Homo sapiens: one gene and its partner. The protein of the gene in region 1 interacts with the protein of each later gene in a biochemical or structural test. Each region holds a gene or a part of one and is shown on either strand. Other genes may lie near its edges. The genes, in order: ARHGEF7 and PAK2.

The links.
Region 2: the proteins of ARHGEF7 (region 1) and PAK2 form a complex in vitro, tested with the Homo sapiens proteins (one study listed by BioGRID).

The regions. Positions count from the first base shown.
Region 1 is NC_000013.11:111,279,224-111,283,046, forward strand, and holds part of ARHGEF7 (rho guanine nucleotide exchange factor 7), read left to right. Parts: intron 1-1,048; coding exon 1,049-1,127; intron 1,128-1,314; coding exon 1,315-1,454; coding exon of another isoform or gene 1,455-1,511; exon of another isoform or gene 1,512-1,901; intron 1,902-3,823. UniProt on the Homo sapiens protein: Acts as a RAC1 guanine nucleotide exchange factor (GEF) and can induce membrane ruffling. Functions in cell migration, attachment and cell spreading. Promotes targeting of RAC1 to focal adhesions. May function as a positive regulator of apoptosis.
Region 2 is NC_000003.12:196,802,232-196,806,054, reverse strand, and holds part of PAK2 (serine/threonine-protein kinase PAK 2), read right to left. Parts: intron 3,039-3,823; coding exon 2,891-3,038; intron 704-2,890; coding exon 672-703; intron 1-671. UniProt on the Homo sapiens protein: Serine/threonine protein kinase that plays a role in a variety of different signaling pathways including cytoskeleton regulation, cell motility, cell cycle progression, apoptosis or proliferation.

The DNA of each region.
Region 1 (3,823 bases):
GAAGTGTCCAGCAGTCTCCTCTTCCACCGGCCATGCTTTAGGATGAGATTTCTCAGCCTGGGCACTGCTGACGTTCTGGACTGGATCGTTCATGGCCAGGGGCTGGGGGTCTCGGTGAGACTGTCCTGGGCACTGTAGGGTATCAGCAGCCTCTCTGGCCCTTACTTGCTGGAGGTCTGAGCCCCTGCCAGGTTGTGGCACTGCCACCCATTCTCTGTGGGGGCACGTTCCCCACACCAGTTGAGCAGCACTCCGTCTGGAGGTGCTTATGTAGAATCCTGCTCCGCAGCTGATGGAGTGCTCCCCAGGCAGCGCTGCCCAGACGCCCACTGCCTCTTCCTGCGGACTTGGTGGGCCACCATGTACTGTGGTTTCTGTCAGCTGTGCCAGGATGTTTTGTGTTCACTTCTGACTTGTTTGTAATGATCACTTTGTACCCCCTTTCTGGTATCTTTCCATTGACATTTCCTGGTGCAGTTACCGATTTCTTCTGTTTTCAGGGAGCACTGGTTTGCCAACCATTTTGTGCATTGTGTGCAGCATTTAGCACAACTACTTATTTTCTGTTTTACAAAGTAGAATGTTATGAAATTCTTGTTCTTGCCTCAATTTCCCACCCTTATTTTGACTTTAAACTTGGAACTTCCTCTGCATTTCTTTACGAGGAAAATACATGGTTCTTTTCTGCAAAAACATCATTTAAAACAACTGTTATACACGGTAGTTTTTTAAAAATCATAATGTGTGATGTCTTTTGTCCTGGTGTCTATGTTTAGTAGCAGCTCATCAGATACAGTGTGTGTTTGGGCTTGTCACTCTGTCCCTTGTCGCCAGTTGAGTTTCTTGCTTACAGTACAGTATTATAATTTATTATTTGAGATAAAAATTTTTGTATTATACACACATCTGCTACAAATGAGCTTTTTTTGGTTCACAAACACAGTTCCTCCACCAATTCTAAAATCATTTAATATTGACTTTAATAATGGTACCTTTTTCTAGAAAAGCACTAATTGTTTTTTTTTTTGTGGGGGGGGGTCTTTTTTAGGGAAAGCTTCCAACGACAGGAATGACAATCACAAAGCTTGAGGACAGTGAAAATCATAGAAATGCATTTGAAATATCAGGTGATAGGCACAAGCTGTGTGAGTGCTGTGTCTCGGGGAGGAGAGGCAGCTTGTCCCCGCGTGCAGATTCTTGCTTGCGTATTTCAGAAGGTGGTGTTTAAGCGCTGAGTGGAATTCTGGGGGGTGTGCACGCACGTGCTTTTTACCTGTGTTTCCACTCGGCCTATTTTTTCCTTCTCTCCTATAGGGAGCATGATTGAGCGGATATTAGTGTCGTGCAACAACCAGCAGGATCTGCAGGAATGGGTGGAGCACCTACAGAAGCAAACGAAGGTCACGTCTGTGGGAAACCCCACCATAAAGCCTCATTCAGTGCCATCTCATACCGTAAGGACTTGGTGCTTCTCCTCCTTCCAGACTCCAGGCGTGGCATCCCGTGGCTGAGCTGTCAGCAAGTGATCAGTTGCTTTAAAACCTAATCAATATTTGGATAAAAAGTGCAAAACACTTGCTTCACATTTCTCTGCAGATCTTTGGCCCTCTTCGTGCAGTAGTGAATTGTTTTCCAATGAGTGTTCTCGAGAAACAACCCTGAATTGTGCCTCCTCACGCACAGTTCAGAGGTGCTTGGGTGGGAAGCTGCTTCTGCTCCGTGTGGCCCTAGAAGACTGATTTAGGGGAGTTTTACACTCAACTATAGATGATTTTTCTGAGAATTTTAACTGTTTATTATGCTTCATTTAAGAAAACAAAAAATAAATGATTATGATGATGAAAAGGGCCAGACTCATGTTGAAGGCATTAAAAGAATTTATGACACACTGTTGATTTTAAGAAATTGAGGTGTCTTTTACTTAGAAAAGCTCAACAAGTCTTTGGATATTTAGAGACTTTTTTTTTTTTTTTTTTTTTTTTTTTTACAACTTTTCAGAATAGATGAACACTGAAGCTTCAGTGTTTAAACCTCTCCTGGTGTTTTGTGCTCAAGAAGTTGGTATCGGGTTGTTTTAACAGTCGTCATCTTTATCAAGTAATACGGAAAAACTGGGCAGAGCTTTTAAAGAATGAATGACGATGACACAGGCGTTTTCTGCTTACAGATTTCCTCACATCCTTATTAGGCTATTAGGATCAGCTCTGTCGTGTGCTCAGTTTTCATGTTTTCTTCTTCATGTGAAGGTTGTAGCTCAAGAAGGATTGCTGTACTCTGATATTCTCATCAGAGTTTCAGAGTCCATCTGATTTCTTTCAGCAGTAAAGATTGTAACTACTCATTGGCTTTTAGCTAGCATTTCATTTTTAATGGCTCTACCATTTTAAAATTCTCCATTCTTTCATGGAGATCAGTTTATCCCAGGGACGTGTGTGTACACGTGTGTTTATAAAGAACAGTGGATGAGCTGCTTCACTCAGGTTTTCAACAGCAGCCTGAAACTCTACTTCATACAATTTTATATCAAGTCAGCTTTTCTCTGTGGCCAGACCCTCCGTCTTAGTGTTTCTTTCACTGGTGGCTGGGAAGGCATCCCTTCAGCGGGGAAGGCACTGTGCCTCATGTTTAAAATGTTCTGCATTCTCCTACAGAGTTTCTTGTGTGGGATGATGTATTCTGTGATCCAACTCTGACCAGCTGAAATCATTTTCTAATTTTAGCATAAAGCATACTTCCTTTGACTTTTTCAAGAAAGGAGAAACAAAACCAGACACTGCTTTGACGTTGTTGCTAGAAGGGATGTCTTACATAATTTTATCCATCTATACATTATTTCCTATGAAAAGATGACCTTACAGTGGCTTCATAGCATGACCTGCATCTCACACAATTCCCTCCCCCATGCAGGGACTAGAATGTGATCGTTGCAGGAAGTTGATGGCTTCTATTCTTGAAATTGTGGCATTAGCTGCCGTCCCTCTCAGCCTGTGTTTTGAAGGTCGCGCACTTCCTCAGAATGCCGGCCCCACTCCGTTTCCAGTTCACAGCGCCACACAGCTTGTTCTCCCATTAAATGCACCTTACTATTGTTGGCTAATTTGAGGTCATTATTGGCTGATTTTGAGAATGACTTATTTAACTTTTCTCATTTAACTGTCATTGTGATGGAATATTTTGGGTTTTCCAGGAATATAAAATGCATTAATGGCACACCGCTCTAAGAAGTTAATTTTTGATTAACTTTGTTTTGATTAAAGTTGAGTTTTCTAAGAACATAATTGGTTTTAATACCAGGGTTTGGCAGTGTTCAGTAAAGATCCAGATGGTAAACGTTCTCTGCTTTACAGGTTCAGGCCTCTTGCAGCTGTACTCTGCCCTTGGAACACAACAGCAGTTTTAGACAGGCACAGGCCTGCCTGTGTGCCAGGAAAACTTTTTTAAAAAACAAAACTAGGCGATCAGGCCTTAGTTTCGCCCAGTACTTTATCACCAGGTGAAGAATAATACGTGGCTGGGGGGGAATCACCTTCCTTCTTACAGCCACATGCCCTGTGTGCTTTTGTGAAATTCTCATCTTTTTACTAGATGAAGTACCTTTTTTCTATAAATGTTACTCCGTAGCTAATAAATGTGGCTAGTGGATGTCTTTTGAGTGCTGGGGCCCCAGCTAGAGCTGCCCCTCCTGTCTGGGGCAGACGCCGTGAGGAGCCCCACGCTCGGCCCAGGTGGCGCGAGCTAGTGTTTGGCCCCAAAAACTGACTGCTGAGAGCCAGAGATACGAATGAAATGATAAATCCTGAGGTTTATTTCACATGGAGTGTTT
Region 2 (3,823 bases), on another chromosome or scaffold:
CTGTAGTCCCAGCTACTCGGGAGGCTGAGGCAGGAGAATGGAGTGAACCCAGAAGACGGTGCGTGCAGTGAGCCAAGATTGCGCCACTGCACTCCAGCCTGGGCGACAGAGCGAGACTCTAACTCAAAAAAAATAAAAATAAAATAAATAAATAAATAAAATAAAATAAAATATAAAAAAATAAAACTCCAGGAGACTGTTTCCTCCCAATTGAGAAACTGCAAATAAAACGACTGTTTCCAAAAACTGACTGTGTTTATGCGATAACTTAAGTTTCAGATGACTCTGAAGACTGACAAGGTTCAACTGTTCAGCACCTTTCCACAGTCTATATTCAGTAAAATAGTACCAGAAGGAAAACTGAGGGATGGAGAGGAAAATATATGCTAGCAAGTTCTTTGTGTTCACGTTTGTATATGTTAACATTACCAAAACTAACTAAACTGTTCTGAAGGTCATTATAAATTTTAGTTACATTAAGTATCACATCAAGGAATTTCTATTTAATACGGCTTCTTCAACTAATCAGGTGGCTAGCTAAAAACACCTATTGAGTAGTTATTTACCTCTGATGGCTGTAATTTATTTTAGAAAGCAAAATAAAAACTGAGATTTGTCTTGGGTAACCTAAATTAGAACAAGAGATACAAGAAATAATATAATTAACTTACTGCTGGTGTTCCAGAAGGAAAGCCATCTTTCTCTGAATATGAAACAAAACATAACATTAGCAATTCAAGAAACAGCACTTTTATATGATAAAAGGAAAAAAAAAAAGCAGAGAAAGTGAAATGTTCTTAAACTGATTTCAAGTTGAATTAACTCTTGAGAAAAATGAACACGCAAGTAGTCAAATAAGAATTTATATAAGACCAAGGTAAGAAATCTGAAATCTACATGAAACTATAAATTTAGTAAAAATCAGTGAATTATATATTTAAAATGGGTGAATTGTATTGCATGTAAATTATACCTCAATAAAGCTATCAAAATTTAGTTTGAAAGTATACCTATCAATCTGTATTTATTAAAACAAAACAAATTTATTGATAAAGATACTTTCTCCAGAAAACTGCTGACTGAGGAACTTAATGCAACAATTAAGACAATGACAATTGTGCAAAGTAAAATTCTGACATTGTTTTGTTTTTCTTTTAAAAATGCCCAGAGACATACATATATGTGTGTGTGTGTGTATATGTGTGTGTGTATATATATATATATATGTGTATATATATATATATATATCACACACACACACACATATCACATATTACATACGCACAGGCCGGGCGCGGTGGCTCATGCCTGTAATCCTAGCACTTTGGGAGGCCGAGAGACAGGCAGATCACCTGAGGTTGGGAGTTCAAGACCAGCCTGACCAACATGGAGAAACCCAGTCTCTACTAAAAATACAAAATTAGCCAGGTGTGGCGGCGCATGCTTGTAATCTCAGCTACTCAGGAGGCTGAGGCAGGAGAATTGCTTGAACCCGGGAGGCGGGGGTTCTGGCAAGCCGAGATTGTGCCACTGCACTCCAGCCTGGGCAACAGAGTAAACTCCAGCTCAAAAACAAAACAAAACACACACACGCACGCGCGTGCGCACACACATATATGTATGTATGTGTACTAGGTGAAAATAAGCTACCATTTTGTGGTCAAACATTGGTTTTTCAAAAAAATTACTAATTTACACACAGACTTACTGGTTGATAGAAAAGTTCTAGGAGCAAGTGTGACCTTTTCCTAACGGTGTACTAGACTCAACAAAAAAAGGTCAAGATCACTTGAAAAAGATTTCTATTTCTCCCTTGCACATGGCCTTTGTTTCTGTGAGGATGCAAACAGTAAGTAAAATCAATTAAAACCACATGTACGATTTTAGCTCCATCATATTGCTTTTGAAAACCACATGTATGACTTCAGAGACAGACAAACATATTGAAAAATGACATCCTGAGGATGTAGTGAGCAAAATCTAAACTGAGGGAAACAGGACAAATGATCTTGTTTCTGTAATAAATAAACGTCAAGAAAAGACAGCATGAACCAGTGTGTGGGAGGGGAAGCCTAAAGATCAAAAGAGATTCAAGAGATGTATCAACCAACTGCGTTGTATGAACTTTATTCTGATCTTTATTTGAACAAAAACTATTTTTAAAAATCCACTACACCAACTCTTACACTATATACCAATTCACTGGTTCTCTCATAGGTTAACGGTATATCTCAGATACTGAGCAACTTGGAAAACAAAGTACATCAAACCCCATTTCCATCCAGCTATATTCATCCAGAAAGTAAAATTTGCATTACTGTGACTATGTAGATGATATTCCAGATATTCCATTTCTGAGGTATAAATCCTTTTAGTTCTAACGCTTCTTTCGTATATGATTTATCTGTTTTATATATTAAAATACATATATTCTATTATCTGCACACTTGCGAGTTTCAATTTTTTGAGTGGACCTAAACATTTTTTAGTTCAACCTCCTCTTGTCCCGCTAACAATAAATGTGTTTCTAGTATGAACATGTCTATCAACCAGCGTCTTTTCCTTTGATTGCTGGAAGTCATTTAAAAGCAGTGAAGAGTGAAAAATGAAAACAAAAACACAGCAATGAGGAGAAAAAACCAAATAAACAAAAAGCCAAAATATCCATCAACTCCCGTTTCTGGCAAACCTATGAGATTACTATAATTCACAGATCCAAATTATGCTTCAGAACTGCCCTGGATCAGTCTACAAAAGGTAGAATCTATCCAGGGAAAAACCGTTATCAACAAGAACCATAGTTTAGCTTTTCATTTTTCCAGGAGTAATCTTTTTATCTAGAAGTGCTTCACAAATCTCCATCTGATCCAGCCTTATGCCACTCTCTTACCAGGAGGAGTAAAGCTCAGATATTTCTGCTTCACTGTGTTGGAGTCGTAGAACTTTAGGACATCCAGCACAGCCTGAGGATTCTTCTTTTGCTCTAGTTTGGTGATATTGGAGGTCTGTAGTAATCGAGCCCACTGTTCTGGCATGCCCTAACAAGAAGATATTCAGAAATTAGTTATGGTTTAAATTGATGCAATAAAATTAATTTCCAGAGATAAATGACAAAATACACAAAACAAACCAATCTTTTGAGTGTAGGTTTGAGTAAATTTTAAAAGATCTCATTTTCTAAAGGTCTATTTTTTCTTTTTTCTTTTTTTGAGACAGAGTCTCACTCTGTCACCCAGGCTGGAGTGCAGTCGTGCGAGATCTCGGCTCACTGCAAGCTCCACCTCCCGGGTTCAGGCCATTCTCCTGCCTCAGCCTCCAGAGTGGCTGGGACTACAGGTGCCCGCCACCACGCCTGGCTAATTTTTTGTATTTTTAGTAGAGACGGGGTTTCACCATGTTAGCCAGGATAGTTTCAATCTCCTGACCTCGTGATCCACCCGCCTCGGCCTCCCAAAGTGCTGGGATTACACAGGCGTGAGCCACCGCGCCCGGCCTAGGTCTATTTTTTCTAAGTCTGTTTTGCATAACTATAATTAATAGGCTCTGCTCTCTAGGAAAACGATATATCCAACCACTAACACTTTTATAAAAAGCAAAAAGCAGTAAGAATTCATAGTTAACGTATAGATAGAAATGTTAATTTCCCTTTTTTTGAGACGGAGTTTCACTCTTCTTGCCCAGGCTGGAGTGCAATGGCACAGTCTCTGTTCACTGCAACCTCCATCTCCGAGGTTCAAATGATTCCCCTGCCTCAGCCTCCTGAGTAGTTGGAATTACAGGCATACACCCCCACGCTTGGCTAATTTTCTTGTATTTTTAGTAG